7 linked regions of the Homo sapiens genome follow. The protein of the gene in region 5 purifies or fractionates together with the protein of the main gene of each other region. This does not show direct contact. Each region holds a gene or a part of one and is shown on either strand. Other genes may lie near its edges.

The links.
Region 1: the proteins of POC5 (region 5) and PRCP purify together in Homo sapiens (co-immunoprecipitation; one large-scale study listed by IntAct). This does not show direct contact.
Region 2: the proteins of POC5 (region 5) and FHIP2A purify together in Homo sapiens (affinity purification with mass spectrometry; 2 studies listed by BioGRID and IntAct, with this or other methods). This does not show direct contact.
Region 3: the proteins of POC5 (region 5) and DCX purify together in Homo sapiens (co-immunoprecipitation; one large-scale study listed by IntAct). This does not show direct contact.
Region 4: the proteins of POC5 (region 5) and RAB11FIP4 purify together in Homo sapiens (co-immunoprecipitation; one large-scale study listed by IntAct). This does not show direct contact.
Region 6: the proteins of POC5 (region 5) and GGH purify together in Homo sapiens (co-immunoprecipitation; one large-scale study listed by IntAct). This does not show direct contact.
Region 7: the proteins of POC5 (region 5) and LUC7L3 purify together in Homo sapiens (co-immunoprecipitation; one large-scale study listed by IntAct). This does not show direct contact.

The regions. Positions count from the first base shown.
Region 1 is NC_000011.10:82,822,436-82,824,933, reverse strand, and holds the end of PRCP (lysosomal Pro-X carboxypeptidase isoform 1 preproprotein), read left to right. Parts: coding exon 1-28; 3' UTR 29-1,998; downstream 1,999-2,498. UniProt on the Homo sapiens protein: Cleaves C-terminal amino acids linked to proline in peptides such as angiotensin II, III and des-Arg9-bradykinin. This cleavage occurs at acidic pH, but enzymatic activity is retained with some substrates at neutral pH.
Region 2 is NC_000010.11:114,820,651-114,824,779, forward strand, and holds the start of FHIP2A (FHF complex subunit HOOK interacting protein 2A), read left to right. Parts: upstream 1-1,428; coding exon 1,429-1,473; exon of another isoform or gene 1,474-2,298; intron 2,299-4,129. Other genes in the region: translation initiation factor IF-2-like, read right to left, coding at 846-1,451. UniProt on the Homo sapiens protein: Required for proper functioning of the nervous system.
Region 3 is NC_000023.11:111,405,693-111,409,192, reverse strand, and holds part of DCX (neuronal migration protein doublecortin), read left to right. Parts: intron 1-3,500. UniProt on the Homo sapiens protein: Microtubule-associated protein required for initial steps of neuronal dispersion and cortex lamination during cerebral cortex development. May act by competing with the putative neuronal protein kinase DCLK1 in binding to a target protein.
Region 4 is NC_000017.11:31,531,175-31,534,674, forward strand, and holds part of RAB11FIP4 (rab11 family-interacting protein 4), read left to right. Parts: intron 1-441; coding exon 442-558; 3' UTR 559-3,500. UniProt on the Homo sapiens protein: Acts as a regulator of endocytic traffic by participating in membrane delivery. Required for the abscission step in cytokinesis, possibly by acting as an 'address tag' delivering recycling endosome membranes to the cleavage furrow during late cytokinesis.
Region 5 is NC_000005.10:75,676,531-75,679,437, reverse strand, and holds part of POC5 (centrosomal protein POC5), read left to right. Parts: intron 1-1,487; coding exon 1,488-1,664; intron 1,665-2,907. UniProt on the Homo sapiens protein: Essential for the assembly of the distal half of centrioles, required for centriole elongation. Acts as a negative regulator of centriole elongation.
Region 6 is NC_000008.11:63,036,007-63,040,264, reverse strand, and holds the start of GGH (gamma-glutamyl hydrolase isoform 1 precursor), read left to right. Parts: upstream 1-1,458; 5' UTR 1,459-1,496; coding exon 1,497-1,605; intron 1,606-4,258. UniProt on the Homo sapiens protein: Hydrolyzes the polyglutamate sidechains of pteroylpolyglutamates. Progressively removes gamma-glutamyl residues from pteroylpoly-gamma-glutamate to yield pteroyl-alpha-glutamate (folic acid) and free glutamate.
Region 7 is NC_000017.11:50,743,603-50,747,102, forward strand, and holds part of LUC7L3 (luc7-like protein 3), read left to right. Parts: intron 1-103; coding exon 104-208; intron 209-1,049; coding exon 1,050-1,211; intron 1,212-2,117; coding exon 2,118-2,401; intron 2,402-2,939; coding exon 2,940-3,100; intron 3,101-3,500. UniProt on the Homo sapiens protein: Binds cAMP regulatory element DNA sequence. May play a role in RNA splicing.

The sequences.
Region 1 (2,498 bases), on a different chromosome or scaffold from region 5:
CTATGACAGTGCGGGAAAGCAGCACTGAGAAACTTTTGATTGTTTTCAATTTCTTCTTTTATGTTCACACCACCACATTCCCATTCACTTTGATTTTCTACATGTAATTACCTTCTTTTGTTTATCATTAGATTTGATGGGGCCAAAGTTGAGATAGAATAGAGGGTGATGACGGTAAGAGCAAGTGTCCCATGAATGTGATTTCCTGGGTTCTCACTGTCTTTGCACCACGTCTAGGAAGAATCTTCTTGATAGCTCTCCCACACCATCAGTGGCCCTCATAACTGGAGTAGAGTTCCTGGTTGCTTTTCATAAGAGGGAGAGTTACTTTCTTTGTATCTCTGCAAGCAGAGATTTCTCTTTGGTTTTGAGGTTGAAGTGTCTTTGGCCCATTTGTAAGTCCCCATCCCTACCCTACACAAAGTAAAAGCAGAAGATAGATAAAAAATGATGTAATTGCAGCTGGTAGGATGTCTGGTGCCAATCCAGGAAGTGAGAGCCATTTCTTTTGTACCGGATTTAATGACTTTGAACTGTGCTGTAAATAAATAATACAGCTGGACCTTATACCTGTGTGTTGCTTCTGAAGCTCACTTCAACTCCGGCTGATGGAAATGCTGTGTGCACTGGGCTTAGCTGTTTTTGGAAAGTCCTTTAATTTTTTCTCTTCCACTTGGCAGCTTTTCTTAGTTCTGGGATGTTGGCCACTGTGGTACTGCCAGTAAGAAATCTGGCCTTTTTCTGCTCCATTTCTCTTTGTTTCTAAGGTCAGTTTTAATTTGTTTGAATTCTGCCAGTTTAGGAAAATGACTCTGTTTTGTCTTTTTAAATCTGAGCAAGCTTTATGCTGTAGTCACTAATTATATTTCAGTAAGAAGCCTTTAAAAATTGATGAATCAGCTATTCCAAAAGTAGAATATAGTAATATTCAGCTTTTAAATTTTTAAAATTTTATTTTCTGATAGTTGTTACTGCTGTCATTAAAACCAGAAGTGTTAGACACTAACAGGCAGGTGCACAAGAACTTTTCTGTATGACTTCCAAAAGACAAGCTGACTAATTCATGCAGGCAGCATATTTGACATTAATAAATGGCCAAGCCATTCCTATTTCCAAGGGGTTGGCTTCTTTCAAGCAGTTCTTACACTGAGACCTTTCTTCAGAGAGCTTTTCTAGGATAACAAATAGGGTTGGATCAAAACCTTTCAGGGACACAGAGAGACAGAGAGAGAGAGACTAACAGTTTCTACTCTGTTGAAAGATTTCTTCCTCCTTGTTTCTTTTCATTTTCTCTCAATAATTTTTTTTTCTTCACCCTGCCTTGGGAACATTTTCTGCTTTTAAAAAACTGTACCTTGAGCTTGATCATTTTTATGGCATTTTTTTTTTTTAAGGGCATATATAGAGTTCATTCTTGGGATGGAAAGCTGAAATATTTCCTTTACTTTCCCTGGCATCTGGGAGATACAGGAAAATCTTTGTCTTATTTTGGGAGCCTTCAGTTCTCATTGTAATGAGTTGTCTATCAAAGCATTTGGTAACTATTTTGTTTCAGCATCACAGAACAATCGATTTGGGTGGGAATTTAAGGGCCAAAACAATACTAGTTTTTATTCTTTGTCAACTAAGAAATTAAATAATGCAGGGTTTATGGGCTCAATAGAGGATATTCTTACAATTTATTTTACGATTTTAGGGTTTTTCCCTTGTGTAGAATCTTTAAAATACTTTGCCATTTTATTTGATGTTGATTATTTGGATGAGTTACATTATTCTGAAGAAACAAACTGCAAAAAATAGAATTTTTTGGCAAGCATAATTGTATCCTATTACTGTATGCATTTTAGGAATATAGATAGCAGCCTTAATTGAAGTGAGTATAATTATAATATGCTAAGGTTTAATTTTAACATGAAAAAGAATTGGAGTGTCAGATAAGCCTTATTATTTAAAGCATCCCTCTAATAAAACTGCACTTTTTACTGACAGGGAAAGAGAGACATGGAGACTTGAGTGCTTTCTATTTTTATTTTTTTCAGCTCCCAAGAGCTTAGAAAGAATTGGGTGCTTTTTATTTTCTGTTTTTGTTACTTTAACTGCCTGGAGTCAATGGGTAGAACTAAAGTAACTTAGGAGAACCTTCATAAGGAATCTGTAGCGCCAAGAGGTTATCCAGAGGAGCCAGTGTCTAAGCCAGCATAGTAGAGGGTGAAGGCCCCTGAGATATCCAGTTCAACTGCATCATTTTGTAAGGGATAGAATTGTAGCTTAGAGAGAAGGAACTTATCTACGGCCTCACAGCTCCTTTTTGGCAAAACTGGGGCAGAACTGGGGCTCCTTTTTGGCAAATTTTGTTTGCTTCATTTTACTGGTACAGTTTTATTTTTGTTTGGATTCAAGCAACAAAAGCCCACAAAACCAGCTTAAGGAAAAGAAATGTTTTGAAACTGCCAGATCAGCTCCAGGACTTGGGTTACCAGGAATCATGGGGAACTAGA
Region 2 (4,129 bases), on a different chromosome or scaffold from region 5:
CCCATTACACCACCACGTTCGGCTAATTTTTTTTTTTTTTTTTTTTTTGTATTTTTAATAGAGACGGAGTTTCACCATGTTGGCCAGGCTGGTCTCGAACTCCTGGCCTCAAGTGATCCTCCCGCCTTTGCCTCCCAGAGTGCTGAGATTACAGGCGTGAGCCACCGCGCCTGGGCCAGATACGTATTTTCAGCACTGGTTGTGCAAAACTCACTCCCCACCTCATCTTAAGAACTTAATGAACCTTTTGGTAAAACGCCAATACCAGCATAAAACAAATTTCTTCAGGATACAAATATTTTCATAATTTGTATTAACTCAACCTAAACTTTACCAGCCTGAACTGCTTCTTCAAGGCTTGACTAATACACTGTTAGGGAGTATTTTAAGCAGCCTCCACCCAAGTGCTTACCTTGTAGCTCTATTTATCTGCCTTAGGCATTTACTGGACTCCTTTCAGATTCTTTCCCTCGCTAATGTTTTCCGGTATCATCTGATAACTGAATAGAAAATGCTGTTCTGAATCACTACACCTCACTATCAACCATATCACAAATAAATTATGTTATATATTATATATAAATATTATAATGGGCTATTTAAACTAAGCCAGCCGTCTTACCATGTGCTCATGTGGGATTTCCTGTTTCAATGTTGAATAATAATATATTTTAAAGTTAGCAAAGCCATTTCACCTGCAGTCGTTGATTTCTTCAAAATCTGAGCATTTAAATCCATTGCCAATGTTTGCTTAAAGAACACTGTTTTCTTAACGAGTCTTCCAAATCGGTCCTTACAGGAAGAACCTCTGAATGCTATACGCATATATGGACGGCTGCGTGTCCCTACAAAGTCAGCCTGTTACTTCCACTGGAGAAACAAAACTCTTGAGAATCGCTGAGCTGTAAAAATGTTAGAAAGCCGGTGTCCCAGGCGCCCTGAGAAAGCCGGGAGAGGGCGGTGGCTGCCCACAGGCCGCCTCCAGCCCCGCGCGAGGCCGAGGCCTCAGCGCGCCCCCCGCCCCCGCGGCGCCTAGCGGCCCCGCCGCAGGGCAGGCCTGGCCGGGCCTCCCCGGGCTGCGGCGGCGCCCCCTGCAGGCCGCGGCGGGCAGAGCGGGGGGAAGGAACCCGAGCCGGGCTGCCACCGTGTCCCAACCGGTGCCGCCGCCGGAGCTTCTCCGGGCCCCGAGTCCTCGCCGAACGCCCTCCTCGCCGCCCGCCGCGTCCCGGCGCCCTCCGGAGCCGCCGAGCCGCCCGCGCACACCTGAAGCGGCCGGGCCAGGCCCTGCCTCGATCCTCAGCTCGTCCTCCCCGCCCCGCACCGGCCTTCACTCTGGAGCGGCCCCGGCAGCCGCAGCAGGGGCGGCGGCGGCGGATCGAGGAGCTCTCCAGGTCGTCCCGGGAGAGGCTGCTGCAGTCCCGGGACAGGATGTTCTCCAAGTTCACCTCCATCCTGCAGCACGCCGTGGAGGCGGTAAGGCCGCGGGCTGCGGGCGCACGGCAGGCCGGGGATGGCGGCGGCCTACGCTCCCCGGCGGCCTCGGGGACAAGCCGGGCGGCCTTGGCCCGGCCCTCGGCGGCCCTGTCCCCGGTTGGGGTGAGGCCCCAGGCGGGCGCCCTGGGCGGCCGCCGGGTCGTGGGGGCGCCCGGGGCCTCGGGCCTGGCTCTGCGGGGGTCCCGTCGGTCCCTGGCTGCCCCAGGCCGGCAGTCCCTGCCCTCCTCCAGGAGCCGGGGCGGGGGTGCCGGGGAGGACCTGGCCGCCCAACGCCGCTCGGTGGTCGCCTCATTCCTCTGATGGGGCCGGGGGTTCGGGGAGCACCTGGCGGGGTCGCAGAGAGCTCCCCCGGGCTCCCTTAACGTTAACCTTCTCCGGAAAAAAAGTGGTCAGCGTTGAGCAAGACAAAAGAAACGAGCAAGCACCGCTTGGGCTTGGTTCTGTTTTGTTTTGGTTTTCGGGGGTAGAGGTGGGAGAGGCATGGTCTCGCTGTGGGGCGTCCCTGGCGAGGGAGCCGCCGACCAGCCCCCGGGTTGCTGGCTTTTGCTTTCTTGGGCCTGGAGGCCGAACTCAGCTGAACCTTATGTATTGATCTGAAATAGGAGTTTGGAGGGTCCAGTCGAGTTTGCTTTCGACAGCTTCCAAGCTCACCGAGCCCAGAGACCATCTGTTTCCTTTCTTGTCTAGTTCTCTTCCTGGACACTCTTCGTTTATCCTGCAATTGTACTCTCCTTTGAGGGTTTTAGACACCAGCATAGAGACAGTATTCAAGTATCCTAGTAGACTAATAAGTGAAAAGAAACTAAAAAGAAAATGCCTTGTCACTGTTCTAGTAAGAATGCTAGTTGCTTCACTTGTTTACTTTATTCTGGGAGAACTGCCCAAATTGAAAAATGCATTCTGTGCAGAAACAATTACTTTGCTAATTTTTAACATGACATTCTCTTCCTATGTTCATATTATGTGATAGGACACTTTAAAATGTACACTTTAAAAATGTCAGATACAACAATGATTTTTTATGGGCAGGCAAAAATGGAGTTTTTGCCTTCAGTAATAAAAACAAACTTTAGTACAATTGTTATTTAAGTGATACATGAGAAGCGTTAAAAAATTTAGCTCTAGGGCAAGCTCTTGGGAAAATGTATCAAACAGGAAAAACAGGGTTTCATAAATGTAGAGCAGTATTACACGGAGGGAAATGACAGTGGTAGACTTCAAGACAACTTTTAGTTTTTACTTGCTTATACACACTCTACTTTTGTTGAAAGAATTTAACTGCAGTTTATTAAAACATTTAAATTTTGTTTTCTTTAAAAATACCAAGAATCATTTAATTTTATTTATTTATTTATTTATTTATTTTTTGAGACCGAATCTCATTCTGTCACCCAGGTTGGAGTGCAGGGGTGTGATCTCAGGTCACTGCAACCTCCGCCTCCCGGATTCAAGCGATTCTCCTGCCTCAGCCTCCCTAGTAGCTGGGATTACAGGCACCCGCCACCACACACGGCTAATTTTTTTTTTTTTTTTTAGTAGAGATGGGGTTTCACCATGTTAGCCAGGCTGCTCTCGAACTCCTGACCTCAAGTGATCGCCCGCCTTGGCCTCCCAAAGTGCTGGGATTACAGGTGTGAGCCACCACACCCGGCCCGAATCATTTTAACCTTGAATATATGAAATACTTGGGAACACTTAATGAGATACTTGGTAATCAAAATTTACTATATTGCAGTCAGCTGTCTTATCCGTAGGCTCTGCACCTGTGATTTAACCAAACTCAAGTAAAAAAATATTTGAGGGGGAAAAAAATTCTGCAGAGTTCCAAAAAGCAAAACTTGAATTTGCCATATTCAAGTACTGCCTTGAATCCATGTGAATGAAGTGATGTGTAGGCATTGTATTAGGTATTAGAAGCAATCTAGAGATGATTTAAAGAATACAGGTATGCATAGGTTATATGAAAATATGCCATTTTATAACAGGGACTTGAACATCCTCAGATCTTAGGGGTAGGAAGAGATGTCCTGGAACTAGTCCCCTACAGATACCAACTATATTTATATCCTTTACCCATCAGGCTAGTATTTACAGAAATAAGTACTTAGAAAAAGAAAGACGGCTTTCCTGCTCTCCTAGTAAAGGCTCATTTTTATCCGGAGGCCTGTGTTTTCTTGTCCTCGTTATCTTTTTATAATTGTATATATTAGCATCTGCCAAATTATCTGGCTCCTGCTCTGTAATATCCTTAGCCTACTTTGCTGAGGTTAGTGAGAAAAAGTTAGAGTGGCTTGTGTTCACCTAGTCCTGAAATTAATGCATTGCATTTAGAAGTGTAATGTTTTCATTTGCTTAGACCTAATGTTTTCATTTGTGGCACCACCCATCTTATCTTGATAGGAGGTTAAATCTCATGAAAAATGTTTGATGTTCTATACTAACCTTTTTTTCCCCCCTTTTAACATTCTCTCTTGGGAATGAACTCATGTGCAATGATGAATAAGCCATCCTTGTGTATTTGGATAGTTTTTTCGTAGCCCAAGGTTAGTTTCCAGTTATTCAGTTCTGTTTATTAATTTGCTTGATATTTTCCTCTATGAACCAATCTTACCATTCCTCAGTTCATTTCATTAGC
Region 3 (3,500 bases), on a different chromosome or scaffold from region 5:
CTATATTATCAAATCAATTATACTGAGGATGCTTCCCTATTTTAAAATTGGTGGATATAACACATGTGATCAATTTGACCTAATACAGTGCTTTAAAGAACAGCTTCAAGGAGTGGTGATAATTAATGTGTTCCTCCTCAAGCCCCTCCCCCATTATCCAGCCCTCTCTCCTCACTCCTTTCATTCCCTGAGCAAAGGTGAGTTTAAAGCAGGCAGATCTCTAGAGTAACCAAATTATGAAATAACTAACAAGGAAGGAGAAATAGCACCTTAAAGAATTTGATGTGGGAAAAACCTGCCTCTGCTTCACTGCTTCTAAGTTTCTTGTGTTCCTAGACAAAGGAGAATGAGGGTTTCCTTTGTACAAGACACTAGTTCTCTCAAATAGCTGCTGTTGCCCAAGTTGTCAGGCAAAGTGATTGGGACCAGTTACTTATAAAAGACAGTGTCCATATTGTTGCTGCATCTGAGTCTCAAGGTTCAAGTTCGACTTCCTTCCTTTCTTTCTTTCTTTCTTTCTTTCTTTCTTTCTTTCTTTCTTTCTTTCTTTCTTTCTTTCTCTTTTCTTTCTTTCTTTCTTCCTTTCTTTCTTTCACAGAGTTTCGCTCTTGTTGCCCAGGCTGGAGTGCAATGGCATGATCTTGGCTCACCACAACCTCTGCCTCCTGCCTCAGCCTCCCAAGTAGCTGAGATTACAGGCATGTGCCACCATGCCTGGCTAATTTTGTATTTTTAGTAGAGGTGGGGTTTCTCCATGTTAGTCAGGCTGGCCTTGAACTCCCGACCTCAGGATCCACCCGCCTTGGCCTCCCAAAGTGTTGGGATTACAGGTGTGAGCCACTGTGCCTGGCCGAGATCTTTCTACATAGCTGACCTTGAAAACCAATGCCCAGGAAGCTTAGATTATTTCATCATGTGTTCAATGGACAGGCAGTGGTTAATCCTAGGCCCTTCCTGACCATCAAAGGACTGGCCATCCTGGAGCATGTCTTAAAATAAAGGAGAGTCACGGCAACTTTGAAGGGTTTGAAGCTAGGTCGAGGGAGCTGTCCAACAGAGTAATTGTTAGGGTGTCTGTCTTTTGTCACTGTAAAATCCACATCTCAGTCAAATTTCAGGGATTTCTCTGTAACAACTTTCACAGACAAAGCACCCTGTATCACCCAATATGTCCTCATTTCCATGAACTGTGATATTCTAAAGACCACAATAGACATTAGGAAAGAGTACTGAACCAAGTGACATTGTATTCAGACCAAGTATTAGAATATTCTTGTCTCTGATATAAGAGAGGCGTTATGCACAAAATTTCCCCAAAATCCATTTTTTACATGTTGATTTTTCTCCCTAGATATGTGTGTGTGTGTGTGTGTGTGTGTGTGTGTGTGTGCGTATTGATGTATCACGAGGGGCTGGTGATAATCTCTGTTCAACATAGGTAGGCAATAAATGTAACTTTGAAAAGACTGCAGCTTTCTATTCCCTTGATTACCTTTGAGTCATATTAGGTTGAACTCCTCTTATCTGTCACTCCTGGGTGCAGTAGTACTTCTTGGTGAATTCCTGGACTATGTGAAGTGTGAATAGGGCTCAGTTGCATTTGTTCACATGTCATGTACAACTACAAGGCACAGTGGACCTCAATACCCATTTAGTCCTTAGTACTGCCTATTCAGTCAAGAAAATTCAGGGCTATGTCTGGGATAGTGTTAAGAAATGTGATCAATTTTCCCACTGCCACAGAGCCAAATGGGAAAGGGCACTGGGATGAGGAGGATGAAGACAATGTGTCTTTTTCTCTCCTATTTTATATTTTAGAACTGCCCATCTGGGAATGGAGGACAGACTTCCCGGTGTGAAATATCAGGGTCATTGGGTTCTAGTCTTAGAGGCAGCAGATTATAATGAAAACAGAAGTCTTTGGACTCAGATTTGGTTGAAATTCAGGATCTGTCAGTGCTAGCCTGTAAGACCTTGAGGAAACCATCTAGATTCCCTAAGCCTCATTTTGTCATCTGTAAAGTGGGAATAATGGCTTTGAGGATTAAATAAGACAGTAGATATAAAGTGCATATTACTCTGCCTGGCACACAGTAGTGCTTAATAAAAGGTAGTTATTATTGTTTGAGTTATCCTAGTTTATAGCTGGTTAGCTACATGATCATAGGTTTGTTCTTATCATTAATGTGACTCATGTTAATTATTTTTAAAATAACTCTTTAAAAAAACAAACAACTGTATTAAGGTATAATTTGCATAACATGAAATTTACCCATTCAAGTGTACAATGATTTTTAGAAGATTTATCAAGTGGTGCAACCATCATCATAACATAATTTTGGACCATTTTCATTTCCTCAGAAAGAAACCCTATTCCAATTAGTTGTCACTGCATATTTTCTCCAATCTCTTCAGCTCTAGACAATGGTTAATCTACTTTCTGTCTCCACATATTTGCCTATTCTGCGCACTTCATATAAATTGAATCAAATACTATGTGGTCTTTTGTGCTTCTTTGACTTAGAATAATGTTTTCAAATTTTATCTATGTTGTTCCATGTATTGGCACTTCTTTCCTTTTTGTTGAAGGATGATATTTCATGTATATGTAGACCACCACATTTGTGTATCTCTTGTGAATAATATTTTTAACTGTAAAATGGGACTAGTAACACCTGCCTTCTCTATCCATTAGGGTGGTTGTAAGGTTAAACTTAGATAATAGATATGGAAACATATTGACAAGGTAAAATTATAGCTACAGGTACTATTATTATTAATGATGTGAAAATACTAATAATGGAAATAATAATAATAATGATTATGACAATGATTATGTTAGTAAGGGATTGTAATGGTCAGTGGTTTCCAAACCCGGCTGCCTTTCAAAATCTTTCAGAGCTTTAGAAAAATATTACATTCCTGGGCCACACCCAAGATCTATTGAATCAGAATCCCCAGGGCTAGGGCCCCAGTGTTTGTGTTTTTACAAATCTCCTCACATGACTTTTATGAGCACTTAGACTTGGGAAGTATTAGACTGGGTGATCTTGATGGTTCCATTCACCTAACTAAAGTGGTAGGAGTTTTGAGACGTGCAGAAATCTGTTTTAATTTTTTTCTTTTTACATCTTAAAGGAATAATAGAGCATAGAACACACTGTGTTTTCAAATGGCCACATTATTACATTTTTAGCCTAAAAATAAATGAAATTTAAAAATAATTGGTTAATAATCACTCTGGCCTTGTGACACTCCTTTGTCTAGTGCCTCTTGTCTACGGTTTTCTGCTAGATACAGAAAGTATCAAGGGAAGCATTTTGGATCAAAGGTTATTGATGTCAGTTTTCCCACAGTCCTTGGGTACACCGAGGGTCTTAGTGAAGCCATGTAGGATATGGTCCTCATTAGCTGTATCCCAAGGAGGTCAATGAATAAAATCCACTGGTGGGTTTTCCTTTTGTCATGTCTTTGTTTTTTTTATTATTTTTTTATTTTAT
Region 4 (3,500 bases), on a different chromosome or scaffold from region 5:
TCAGCAATGTCCGAAAGAACACTGCCCTGGAGAAGAGCAGTGTGGGGCTGGGGGTGGGGAGAGGTGTTCCAGGCAGGAGACAGCTCCCCTTTGGAGTCTTAGCGGCCCTGGGACTTTGTCAGTCTTGATTTTAAATGACTTTGGCTAGTGTTTTCTACTTTTGCAAAAAATTACCCACACCTGGGCCCCCTCTACAAACTGATCACATTGGAATCTCTGGGGGTGGGGCCTGGGCACCTGCATAGGTAATACTAGGGGCTGAGCCACTTCGACTCTGGTCCTGGCATCCAAATGCTGAGGCTGTCCTGGGGCCCACCTTGCCCAGGATCTCCTGATGCCCTCTATTGTCAGGCACTGGCCTGCGACAAGCCTGGGAGTCTGGACTCTGCCTGCACCCTATCCCAGGCCCAGCCACTGACCCGTCTTTCCCATTTCCTTCAGCTAATGGAAGCCCTGAAGGAGCAGGAGGAGATCAACTTCCGGCTGAGGCAGTACATGGACAAGATTATCCTCGCCATCCTGGACCACAATCCCTCCATCCTCGAGATCAAACACTAAGGCACGGGGCTGGCTGCAGAGCAGCCTTAGGACCCTGGGACCAAGGGCAGACCCTGCCCAAGGATGCAGGCCTAAGCCGGGCCTCACACTCACACTGTAAATGTCTCTCTGGCCACCATGCGTTACGTGTACCCGTGTATATGTGGGGAGGCTGTGCACACGAGCGAGGGGTGAGTGGCCGTGGCTGTGGGCAGCATCCACACGGTTAGCCGTGCATGCACTTTGTGGCCCCTTTGCAAGGGGCAGAGGGTACTGGAAGTGGGAGGAGGCAAGGTCTGCTATCAGGAGTTACTGTAAAAACAAGAACTGGAAGCTCGTGTTTCCGGTACTGGGTAAAATGATTCTACCTCTGGGGATAAGGATTCACATTCGCTCTAGTACGATGGGCTCTTTCACCCCACTCCTAGTCCCCTTGGGAGTGGGAGCAAAATTGTGATCTTTCCTAGGAGTTTGAATGCCCCATATTTGTGTCCTCGCCAGCTCTTTGGCCACCTTTCAAGCCCCAGTGTTCAAGCTCAGAGAGGATGAAGGGGCATCTGGAGGGTCCATGAGATGGGGCCCTCACCAAATGCCTTGGCCACCGGCCAGCAGCCCTCTGTGATGTGTGTGCAGAGTGAACAGAGGACTCAGGTTTCATAGCAGCTAGTGCGGGGCATCCTCATCCTGTACCTATAGAGTTCGTGCACTCCCCCATCCATGCTACCTACCTCCCCGTTTCTGTTTCAGTTTTAAGACAATGAAGCAGCATTCACTGCGTCATTGTAACATGAAGGGATAAAAATGAAGGAGAAGGAGGGTTTGGGATGGGTGTCTAAGGCAGGAGTTGACATCGGGCAACCAAAGAAATGAGTTTTGGGGAGGAACACAACTCCCATCCCAGTCAGTTTCCTTCCCATGGCTGCATCTTAAGATGGATGCACGGAGAAACCGTCTGCCTGGCTCCCTGTCTTCATTCTCCACGCAGCCTGGTGATGGCAGGCCTGGGTTTGGATTTCAGAATCCTAGCTCCGGGCTCCACTCGTGTGGCAGCAAGACTGCTTCGTTCCAGCGTTTAGAAACACACCTGTATTTGATTCTCAGCCAGGGGAGCACTCGCTGCACTGGTGGGAGGCGGTTGGGAAAGTTGCAGGAAAACCTTAGTCTTCCATCCTTCTGACCCATGGTGGAAATTCACACCATGGATTTTTAATGGATCTTTGTTCTAGGCAGCTGGGAATAGACATGGTACTTACCTTAGAGTTTTCCAATTTATCTCAATTTTATATGGCTTGTGATTCATTTTCTTAATCCAAATATATATAAACGTGTGTGGTCTTATTCTTCCCCCTGCAGTTTCTTGCTTTCTTCAGCACATCTTATAGTATGAGAAGGAAGGTTTGGGCATGTTGGGAAGGGCGGTGGAGGGGGAGTTGCAGAAAGAGAGGGCAGTGAGGGTGAGGAGAGGGGATCTGGGGACTTGGGTGTGACACCTGCTTGACAGAGGCAGGGCTGTGGCCAGGACCAACCTTCAATTCCATTCCAATCAGCCTTTGCATTTGTTGGATCTCGTGGCTTCTTTTTAATCTTTTGTTGGGGATTAGTTTCATGCTGCACATAATGGGGTTGCACTGGTCTGACCCAGGACTTTGGAGCCACCCACACTGGGAAGACTAGGCTAGGCAGTCGGTCTTCTAGGAGTTTCTCAGCCCCTTAGGACGCGGGTCTCCTTGGGCTCCCCCAAGGGTTCTGCGAAGAGGCAGTGGAAGAAGGCATGAGGAGAGGGTCTCTTGAGAATTTGCCAATAGGAAGGAGTGGCCACGGCTGAAAGGAACAAGACAGATCCTGACATAGCTTTGGCCTGGGTGTTAGGTCAGAAGGAGTACTGGTGCGTGGGGGCCTTACCCCAGGGTTGAGTATTTTATCTGTAAAATGTTATCTGCCCTTTGGCTGCATTGGAATTTCAGAGAAGGCTGCAGAGGCCTGGGTTACACAGCCTGAGTCACAACGTGGGAAGGAATCTCTGCCACGGGAAAGGTGGGCGGAAGCAGCTGGCAGCCTGGGGCGTGCTTCAGGCTCCTCCCTCTAAGGGGCGCCATGGGAACAGGCTCCGGAGGGAGCCGGCGTCTGAAAGGCCCCCGGGACCTGCTGCAGTGCCAGAGGGGCCTCTGGAGCAGGCCTGGCTTTTAAATGGGGGGCTGAATTCCAGCTCACACACACCTCAAGTCCAACCTTACTTTCTTCAGCCAGAATACATTTCTTGTAAAACCTGGCTTGTTGCTTGGCTTTTAAAGATGGTGTATGTTTGTAAAAATATTCTTCTGGGCTCAAAAGCTAGCTTGAGGGGGCAGATGCCCCAGGTGTCCCAGCTCCACAGCCCCTGGCAGATCCCAGACCCCTTGGTGGCAGGTCCCAGAGCCTAGGTGGTAGGAGCTTGATCTTTGTTTCTGCCCTTACCCCTCAGTAGTGGGGCTGCGAGGTAGTAGACAGGATGCCCAGTTAAGTTTGAATTTCAGATAGAAAATAATTTTAGAATAAATATGTTCTATCTAATACATGGGACAGATGTTATTTTTAGAGATAGGATCTTGCTCTGTTGCCCAGGCTGGAGTGTAGTGGTATGATCATAGCTCACCACAACCTTGAACTCCCAGGCTCAAGCGATCCTCCCGCCTTAACTGCCTGAGTAGCTGGGACTACAGGCATGCACCACCACGCCCAGCTAATTTTTCTTATTTTTTGTAGAGACAGGGTCTCACTGTGTTGCCTCACTCGAGCTGCTGACCTCAAGTGATCCTCCCACCTCAGCCTGCCAAAGCACTGGGATTACAGGCATGAGCCACCATGCCTGGCCAGGACATATTTGAAATGGGGAGATTTTAAAAATTCTGATGATTAGACTGAATCCTCAGACGTTCTGGTTTGATTGTTGTGGGTGTAGCCCAGGCATGGGATTTTTTAAAGAG
Region 5 (2,907 bases):
AGCTGTGACTGTGTGTAGCTAGATGCAGCTATATGGAGAATCACAGATGAACTATAATAATCGGGAAAAGATTGATACTTAATAAATGCCTTTGGAAAAACTGTTTAGAGAAAAAATGAATTTAGATTAATACTTCACACTGGAATTTCAAATGTTTTAATAAGCTAAGCCAAAATAAGTAAATGTTATAAGAATATAACTACCTCAGCTGTCCAAAGCTGGTTTTGGTTTCATCATGGAAGCAAGAGGAAATTAATGACAGGATTAACCACAACTTAAAAAAATGGATGTGCATTGAAAATTAAGACAAATACATGAAATGGGGAAATCGTTTACACTCTGAGATAAGTATCTATAATTATTAAATGAGTTTAGTACTCGTCAGGAACTATTAAATTTAAATATTAATATCCTTTCAATTCTTAGCAAATAAGATGAATAGTTGACAAAATGGAATACAAATATGAAACATTAATAAAGAACCACAACTTGAATAGTAGATTTCACCTCAGACTTAAACAGGCGGCTGTGTAATTGATTGACAGTGGAAAAATAGTCCACTTACGTGTTATTCCTGCTGTAAATATTTTTCTGGAGTATTATCCAGCGATAAGCAGCAAAAGCTATAAAAGCTGATAATACTTTTTGATATGATCGTTCCATTGTTTGCAATATATTTTTATTATACAGAAGTAACTCTCAAAAGAGGATTTTTCTTTTGCAAAATGTGCTAAATGTAATAGAAAAAGAAAGACAAAGTAGTATGTTGGTATAAAAACCATCTCATTAAGAACTATAGCAGGTCTCTGTATTACCTCGTAAAAAAAAGTATATTAATAAAATGAGAAGGAAAAAAGGCAGAACACAGAAGCATATGTGTAATGATAATATTAATTATGCTTAAGGATCAAAGAGTCCATAAAACAGATTAATGGTTTCCAGAGGTTAAGGATGGTTGGGGAAGGAACAGAGAGATGGATATGACTGTCAAGGGTGGCACGAGGGAGATCTTCGTGGTGATGAGTATTCTGTATCTTGATTGAGTGATAGTTAACAGGAACTTAGGTGATAAAATGACAGAGATCTATACACAGGCATTATCTCATGGTGAGCTTCCTGGTTTTGACTTTGTTATATTCTAATTATGTCAGATGTAACCATGGCAGGAAACTGGGTGAAGAGCACACAGTACTTTTCAATATGATCTCTGTGTCTTTCTATAAATCTATCATTTAAAAAAAAAAAGTTGGTTTTTTAAGTTTCTAAAATCTTATAAAATCGTTGGCATACTCAGGTTAAAGGGATATTTTGGGGTGTTCAGTTTTGTTTTGCTTTTCGTCTTGTGATTTTGTTTTTTCCATGTTAAAGTTGGTTGAACATACAGTTATTTTAAGTGCCTGTGTATTCTTCATAATTTATGGAATCAATAGATTTTGCTGTGGATTTTCTGCCACCTTGTTACTTCTTTTATTTTTTTTTCTTCTTAGTATGTGCCAAGAGTTGTAACCTCTGCACAACAGAAAGCAGGAAGAACTATTACAGCCCGGATCACAGGAAGATGTGATTTTGCTTCAAAAAATAGAATTAGCAGCAGTTTAGCTATAATGGGAGTTTCTCCTCCCATGAGCTCAGTTGTTGTGGAAAAACATCATCCAGTCACAGTGGTGAGTCCACATTTGATGACCTTTTGTCAAAAAGTCTTTTTCCTGAGAGTTCATAGACTAGTAAACACTTACATAACATGTTGAGAAGATAAAAATTTATGATGACTGGTACTTGTTCTGCCTTTTCCTGTTACAGTTTTTTTTTTTTTTTTAATATATATACTTGTTTTTCTCAAACCTGCTATAAATCTACGTTTCTGCTGTTGGGAAATTAATTTCAGAAACATCGTTTCTTCCAAACTGTAAAAATTATAAAATACTAAAAGTAATCCAGTGTGTTTGTGGTCAAAAGAGTAAAATATGTAAATGCTTTATTATCAGTTTAAAAAGAGACAAAAATTGTTCACTCACTAGCTGCTCATGTAGCAGATATTTGATTACAAGAAAACTCCCCTACATTTATAGTTTTTAATTTTTGGTCCTTTTTTAAAAAAAGTCTTCCCCTTTTTTCAGTACAATTGTCAGCATGTTTTTAGTTTAACAAAATTCAACTTGCAGTAAATGCATGTGATATAAAGAAGGTGCATTGAATTTGAAGCAAAAATTTTAAAACCCGAGTTAGTGCTTCAGCTTTGCTACTTGTTGGCTTTGTGATATATACAAATCAAGTAAAATATTTGAGCCTCCACTTTCTCTTCTGTAAAATGGGGTTAATAAAAATAGTTAGCTCCTTGGGTTATTGTTAGGATTCAAGATTAAATGAGATAATGTGAAAATTAAACGAGATGTATTAAGGCATTTTATAAACTATAAAACCATAAGCAAATTTAACTTACTGAAAGTTACTAGAAAAAGATACATGAGATATCTCTGAATTATTTCCTACAAATGTGTACGAATCAACAATTATCTCAAAAAGTATAATAAGAGTGATAAGAACATCCCTAAAGAAAAACAAGGATTTATTTATTTATTTATTTATTTATTTTTTATTTATTTTTTTTTTTGAGACAGAGTTTCTCTCTTGTCTCCCAGGCTAGATAGAGTGCAATGGCGCAATGTTGGCGCACTGCAATCTCCGCCCCCTGGGTTCAAACAATTCTCCTGCCTCAGCCTCCCGAGTAGCTGGGATTACAGGCACCCGCCACCACCCCCAGCTGATTTCAGGGACTGATTTTAAAAGAGAATGCCCTCTATAAATTCTCAGCATCGGACAACGTTCCTGTGTACTTTCTAAGTATTAGCAAAAAAAAAGTATATGGAATGATTTTAAATCCTTTTTTCCCGAGTACTAGCTGGGCAC
Region 6 (4,258 bases), on a different chromosome or scaffold from region 5:
ATAACTATATTTTCCAAGTTTGTGCTTTAACTTTAATTTTCTTATATAGTCAATTTTTAATTAACATTTTTATTTTTAATGTTTTATGAAACTCTTCCAACAGCCTAAGTTAGGAAGATATATTTATATATTTTCTTATCAAAGTATAATATTTTGCTTTCGTATTTACATATGCACTTCACCTCGAGTTTATTTTTGTGTGTAACGCCGGGTAAAAAATTTTTCCTATGTGGATAGTCAATTATTCTGGCACCACAAGTTCATATTTACAAGGCTACTTGTCTATTTAATCATGCTCAAAACCAGCTCGGCCCTTTCATGTCTTTCATCACATCCTTTGTTGCTTACCTCTCACCACACCCTTCTACAGAAGCGTTATTTTCTTGTTAAACCAGACTATTCACTGCATTTACTCTTCTTGCAACATGCTAAAATTGTTCCTGTTGTCTCTACGAGTCACGCTTTCTGCCTTTTTTCCTTACTGAATTTAAACCTCTTGTGAAAAAGACTGTCCAATTTACGTTTTCACCCTTAATACTGAGCATTGATGTAGCAGGTTTTCAAATATTCTTGTTTTATGCTGAATTTCAGTTGGCCCTTATAGATGGAAACTTTCACTGAGTACAAGCTATATATCCATGTATTTAGGAACAATCAACAGTTTTAACGAATAGGAACCAGTCATCTTTTCTGCCCCGGTGGATAGGCTTAGTGGTGGTCGGTGGATGGCGCTGACCGCGGTTGATCAGAGGAAGCTGACGCCGTTTGCAGGCGTGGCCTGGGCGTGCCCGCTTCAAAGTAGACGCCCGGAGTTGGCCCAGTTCTGACCCTAGTGATGCGCCTGTGCGTGTGTTCCTATCGCCGTCCCGTCTTCACTTCCTACAGATGCCGCGACCCCCCAAATAGCAAGTGTGGACATTCACATTCAGGGGCACAGGCTGTCCGTACAGCGAACGTTGTCACCATTCCCGGAGATAGGGCCCCGACCTTCAAGGGGGCGGTGCGGTTGGCGCGCAGTTCTCAGGCGCCTTCTAGAATCCCCTGCCAGCCTCCCCGCTGCCTGGTTACCAAACTCGGCCGGGGACACCCAACCTCCCCTCTCGAGGACCTGGGTTGGCCAGCCCAGCTTTGTACGGGTGACTGAAGTCCACATCGACGTAACAGTTGAAAGGGAAGGACGCGGAGACCACCCGGTACCCGCCCCAGGCGTTTCCAGAGTCTCCGCTTAGGCGGCCCGTGGGGGTCGGGGTCGCGGTCGCGGTCGCGGACCGGGGACAGAGCAATGGGGCGGGCGCGCAGCGCCGGCTGCACTCCCAGAGCCTCCCACCGCCGCCCCACGGCCGCCTAGCGCGCGCCGGGACTGCATTTCCCATAGGCCCACGCTGCGGAGCACCGCCCACCCGAGTCTCACGCGAGTGCGCTGCCGCGAGGTGTCCCTGCCGCAGCCCCCGCCCGCCCGCAGAGCTTTTGAAAGGCGGCGGGAGGCGGCGAGCGCCATGGCCAGTCCGGGCTGCCTGCTGTGCGTGCTGGGCCTGCTACTCTGCGGGGCGGCGAGCCTCGAGCTGTCTAGACCCCACGGCGACACCGCCAAGAAGCCCATCATCGGTAAGGAGGCTGTGCGGGGCCGCAGCAGACGGGGAGGAGCTGGGTGTTGGCGCTGGGCGCCTCCCGCCGCCGCGCTCCAGCTGGCGCGTCCCGCCGGGAAAAACCCCCAGATGTGCTTCGCTTTTGGTGCAAGGAGGAACCCGGGCTGGGCACCATTTAGGTCGTACTGAAATGTACCTGGTTGAGGTACCTCGTTCATTCCTTTAGACTCATATGACTCTTAAAGGTGGGAGGGAGGAGGGTGCACCATGAAGAATCCTGCGGATTTTCTTTTTTTGTACACAGCTAGGAATTTCTACTAAAATAAAACATTTCCTTTTCGCACATAGTTGGGAAGTTTTACTCATTTACATCTACAAATTCTGTACATGCATTGCATTCATCAAAATGTATTGATGGCGTATTTAAAATACCAGTGCATTGTAATAGAAAATCAAGAAATTAAGGTATAACTTGGATTTTGTCATGTTCAGTAGCAGAGGACAACAGTGGCTGATATCCTAATGTGAGTTCTATTTGGTGTTAAAATGCAGCCCACAATTTTTCGTTTCCAACATATTTGTGTTTTAAAGAGGTAGTAAAATCAGTCTGTGTTACCAAAACACACATTTGAGACAGGCCCAAGGAAAGCTACCTAGGAGAAATCATCCTGGGGTTAAAATTTGCCCAAAGAAATTTGTGTGTGGACATTAAGATTAGTTTTATTTTGGCTGTAGGATTATGCCTTTCATACTATTTTTTTCTATGAATATTATCACTGTATTCTGTAACTAAACAGAAAGTAGATGAATGTTTTTTCATATAGGTAGTGCCCAGTTTTCAAATGGGTTGCTTACTAATATTTGGAACTTATTTCATAGCTGTTTAACATGGTGATTTGATTCTCCACGAATTAACTCAAGCTGTAATTAATGTAACAGGTTGCATATTGTGTGTCCAGAGAAGAGAAAAAAAAGCAGAGGGGATTCTTCCCCTTTCCTAGAATCAGGGGTAGCCCTGCGTCAAATATTTAAAAAAGGGACTTTGCTTTTGGTCACTGAGATCAGCACAACATCGTTAACTGAGTACCGACTATGTACACAATCTTGCTCTGGGAAGTGCAAAGGATTGAAAGATGACAAGCCACAAAAGTTGTGAGATGGCCTTAAATTATTGGTGGAATTTTGGTCATATTTTGAGGGACAGGGAGAACAGCTTGAGCTCTTTTCCCAGGGATGGGAAAAGTGAATATGCGTGGGCCCAGGGGAAGGGGAGATGTTGGTGGAACTCACTCTGATGTACTTCTCTTTCTGGTACCCTTGTGCTCCCATGATGCCCCATGTCTCCTTTGTGGTACCTCACCCCATGTACCCTGTACCACTCCATTTCCTATGACACTCCTAGTTCTTCGTTCCCTAGCCAAACTTTGTTATTCCTTAGTGAAGATGATCTTACCTACCAGTAAGGAGAAAAAGTTTTACTGAACAAATTTTGGCGTTTGACATGTTAATCTGAATACCTGATGAATGCCAATTGTAAGAAGCTGGGAATACAAAAGTGAGTAATACAGACAACAGCTCTTCCTATCAGGTGGCCTACAGAGACACTGAAAGTGTTCCAAATGCTGAAGTGCTGAATAGGAGTAGGCACAGGTACTCACCCGACAGACGTGTTTTGATGTATACTGGTTGCTATACTCTGCTGGGGCTGGGTTTCACTGGTAAAAGGAGGCCAGAGAGATGGGTGGGGCAGAGCATACGGGTCTTACAGAGTTTATTAAAGTTTAGGGACCCACTGAGGTAGTTAAACAAAGTGGTGACACCTGCTTGCTGATCTATCGCTACCTGATGTCCTTTCCTATTGCTTTCTGCTTTCACTCACCTGGCTCTAATAATATGGATTCCTTGCAACGTGACAGGCACAAATCTGACTCCTGGCCTTTGCACTTGCTATTCCTTTGTCCTGGATTGCTCTTTTCCCAGATATATGAATGTGGTTTACTCTGTCACCTCTCTGAAGTCCTGGCTCAAATGTCATGTTTTACCTTCTCAGGGAGGACTTGCCTGGCCACCGTGTTGAAGAGACTGTCCTTTCCTACATAGATGGGCTCTCCTTCCCCACCGTCTTTCTCTCCTTAGTGCTTACGACCAGCCATCACTCTATATATTATGCCTTTTTGTCTTGTTTATTGTTTGTCCTCTTTCCCCTCCCTGCTACACCCTCGAATTAATGCACACAGGGCAGGGGCTTTTGTTTGGTTCACTCATAGTCATGTGTCCCCAGCAGCTAGTTTGTTGCCTGGCATGAGGTATGATTCAACAGTATATATTGAATGACTGTAGGAATAGGAATGGTGATATGATCCGATTTGCTTCTACATGGGGAGCTGCTTGGAGCTTGGGGGGGTTTCTTAAGAAAAGATATAACAAGACCTTCTAAGAGTCTATTATGATAGTGTGGTGGGGAGAGGGTAGATATTGATAGCTTGGGCTAAGGTAATGTTGGAGAGGTGTGGATGGAAGATGTTTTCACTCCTTTGCTTCGTTGTCAGGGAATCAGTGTGTCTGTGAGTATGTGTGGGAAAGGAGTGACAGCCTTGTAAATTTAAGGATCTATATTCTTTAGATGGATTCTAGGTCTACAGTTGTGTGAAGGCTGCAAGTGCTATTGTAAG
Region 7 (3,500 bases), on a different chromosome or scaffold from region 5:
AAACAAAAAAGATGGAAAACAACCACTAATGAACCATGGGGAAAAAAGACAATAGTTGGGTTTGAAAGAAATCTTAACTGTTTTTTTCCCCTACTCTTCTAAGATTGAAGAATTAGGGTCTGAAGGAAAAGTAGAAGAAGCCCAGGGGATGATGAAATTAGTTGAGCAATTAAAAGAAGAGAGAGAACTGCTAAGGTCCACAACGTCGGTGAGTAAACCTTATTTCACATTATCTCATCTGTCTGTTAACAGTTAGTAGGAACTCATTTTTATTTGAGAACCTTTGAAAACTGATGTTCCAAACTTAGAGTCAGCACAATTTGTAGCCCACAAGGTCTGTGGCATCTACTAAGCTCTGCCTTTGTGCAGTATGCAAGCAACTTTATATAGTACAAGAAACAAATGGGTGTGGTTGTATCCCAATAAAATGTTAGCAAAAGGCCTCTCTGGCTTGCCAATCACTGCCTTAAACCATAAATTTTCATATGAGCCTGGTTTTATTTTCATTTTTGTTGTAATAAATTACTCAGTACATACTTACATCTTTGTTAAAAATTAATACACCCTTAAATATCTAATTCTTTTAATTGGAGAATAGAATATACTTGTTTCAGATACTATTGATTGCAGAATGTAATTGGTCATTGGTTCCTCCATATTGAATAGGATATGTTCAGATTATAGTCAATGTGCTTAGTTCCTTAATTAGTTTTGTATATGGACATTATTCCTTGAACCTAAGCAAGGAATGTATTCATACTAAAATAGGTGGCTTTCTGAAAGGTGATTTAAATTTTGTAAGGTAATGTGGGTGTTGAACATTGAACAGTGGGTCTCAACATTTCTTCTGGATGATTCAGTAAGTTAGTTGCTGTTACCTTAAACATCCCTCTCTAAAAGTTGACCACTTGTAGTCCAATATTACTGATTTGGGGAAATGGAAAAGAGCAATTCACACACATTAGAAATCTTTTCTAAATGTTGAGTACTTTCCTGGGATTTGTTTCTCTTCCTCAGATGTTCTTAAAATAACTGATTTATCATTTTAGACAATTGAAAGCTTTGCTGCACAAGAAAAACAAATGGAAGTTTGTGAAGTATGTGGAGCCTTTTTAATAGTAGGAGATGCCCAGTCCCGGGTAGATGACCATTTGATGGGAAAACAACACATGGGCTATGCCAAAATTAAAGCTACTGTAGAAGAATTAAAAGTAAGTTTTTTTGTTTGTTTTGAGGCAGATTCTTGCTCTGTCACCTAGAGTGCAGTGACGCGATCTCAGCTCACTGCCACCTCCACCTCCCAGGTTTAAGCAATTCTCATGCCTCAGCCTCCTGAGTAGCTGGGAGTACAGGCATGTGCCACCAGGCCTGGCTAATTTTTGTTTGTTTGTTTGTTTGTTTATTTTTGAGACAGTCTCGCTTTGTTACCCAGGCTGAAGTACAGTGGCGTGATCTCGGCTCACCGCAACCTCCACCTCTGGGGTTCAAGCAATTCTCATGCCTCAGCTTCCTGAGTAGCTGGGATTACAGGCACACACTACCACGCCCGGCTGATTTTTGTATTTTTTTTAATAGAGACGGGGTTTTTTCCTGTTGGCCAGGCTGGTCTTGAACTCCTGCCTCAGGTGATCCGTCCTCCTCAGCCTCCCAAAGTGCTGAGCCACTGCGCTCGGCCAGCGTAAATTTCTTCTAAAGATACATTTTAGCTATTAAAAAAATCTATTTTAGCTATAGCTACAGCTTTTAGCTATCAGTAGCTATAGATAAAAATAACTATATTCTAATATGGCTTAAATGGAGATATGACCCTCTCATTGATATTTTCCTATGTGTAATTATTTTTGAAGCATTGTGAGTTCTGTGAAATTTTGCTATTTATTGAACTATGAAAGCACTTGATTTTCTTAACTCTTGAGTGCCAGAAATTTGGGAAGAATATTCCTGAGGATTAGACAAATAATGATACCTTGTGTATATACATGGTGTTGGAATGTCTACATTTCCCTTAAGGGCATCAATTCCATAAGTTGGTCTACAGATAACTTCACATTAGTTGACCATTGTTTAACAATGCTTTAAAGTTACATTTGCATAAGAATCCAACTTGATTTTTCTAGGAAAAGTTAAGGAAAAGAACCGAAGAACCTGATCGTGATGAGCGTCTAAAAAAGGAGAAGCAAGAAAGAGAAGAAAGAGAAAAAGAACGGGAGAGAGAAAGGGAAGAAAGAGAAAGGAAAAGACGAAGGGAAGAGGAAGAAAGAGAAAAAGAAAGGGCTCGTGACAGAGAAAGAAGAAAGAGAAGTCGTTCACGAAGTAGACACTCAAGCCGAACATCAGACAGAAGATGCAGCAGGTCTCGGGACCACAAAAGGTCACGAAGTAGAGAAAGAAGGCGGAGCAGGTATATATAAAACACCCTAAGACTGTCCAGCTCATAATGGGTGTGCAATAACAATAATAACTACTAGTATTATTCCTTGGAATGGTACTTGGGAAGCTCTTAAGCATCTTTAAGTGATAGGATGGGTTGCGAGAGCGGAATCAGTGAATAAAATAGTTCCATCTTCGGGGCAACTTCTGTGCCATTTCCCACCTGTCTAGGAAATTTCACCCAACCTTTTTACAAAGTTAGAGTACCTGATGGTCTCTTAAGTGCTTGTCTCACTGATTCCGAGAAATAAAATATGAAATCAGCCATACTGTTTTAATTATAATTACAAATTGAAGAAGAGTCTTAAAGAGCACAACGATAACCATCTTAGCACTATTGGAGATGAATTTAGAAAGATTTTCAATAATTTTTAGTTCTTAAGATTTCTAATGTAAATATGTTTTAGAGGGTAAGTTTTGCCTAGTCTTGTTAATTAATAGCATCTACTCCAAGGCCTTTACTTATTGTAATACTGGCTGAAGTTGCCTTTTGGTTTTAAATTATTAAGAAGTAGAGATCGACGAAGAAGCAGAAGCCATGATCGATCAGAAAGAAAACACAGATCTCGAAGTCGGGATCGAAGAAGATCAAAAAGCCGGGATCGAAAGTCATATAAGCACAGGAGCAAAAGTCGGGACAGAGAACAAGATAGAAAATCCAAGGAGAAAGGTTAGTTTATATGAGAATTCAGTTCATTAAGAAACTTTTCACACCCTAATCGCCCCACTCACTTTTCTCCAGACACAGGCAAAGATCCATTTCATACATACTCCTTTTCACTTTGAGGAATGCCATTCAGTAGGAGACAGGCATTCTTTCCCCCTCTCCTACTTAGATTTGTGAAAATGACAGTTTATCTGGTGTTTTCTTAGATGTTAAAAACATCTTTCAGTTGATAAACCTGAAGGTTTTTAATGTAGCTTCTTTTAAGTGTTATATTACCTTTCGGGGTTATTAGGTGTAGGATTTATTATATTACCTTGGTTATTGGCTCCTTTTTTTTTTACACACTGCAGTGTTTCATAATACGTCTTATAAAGTGAGTGTACATTGTTGCATTAATCTTCAT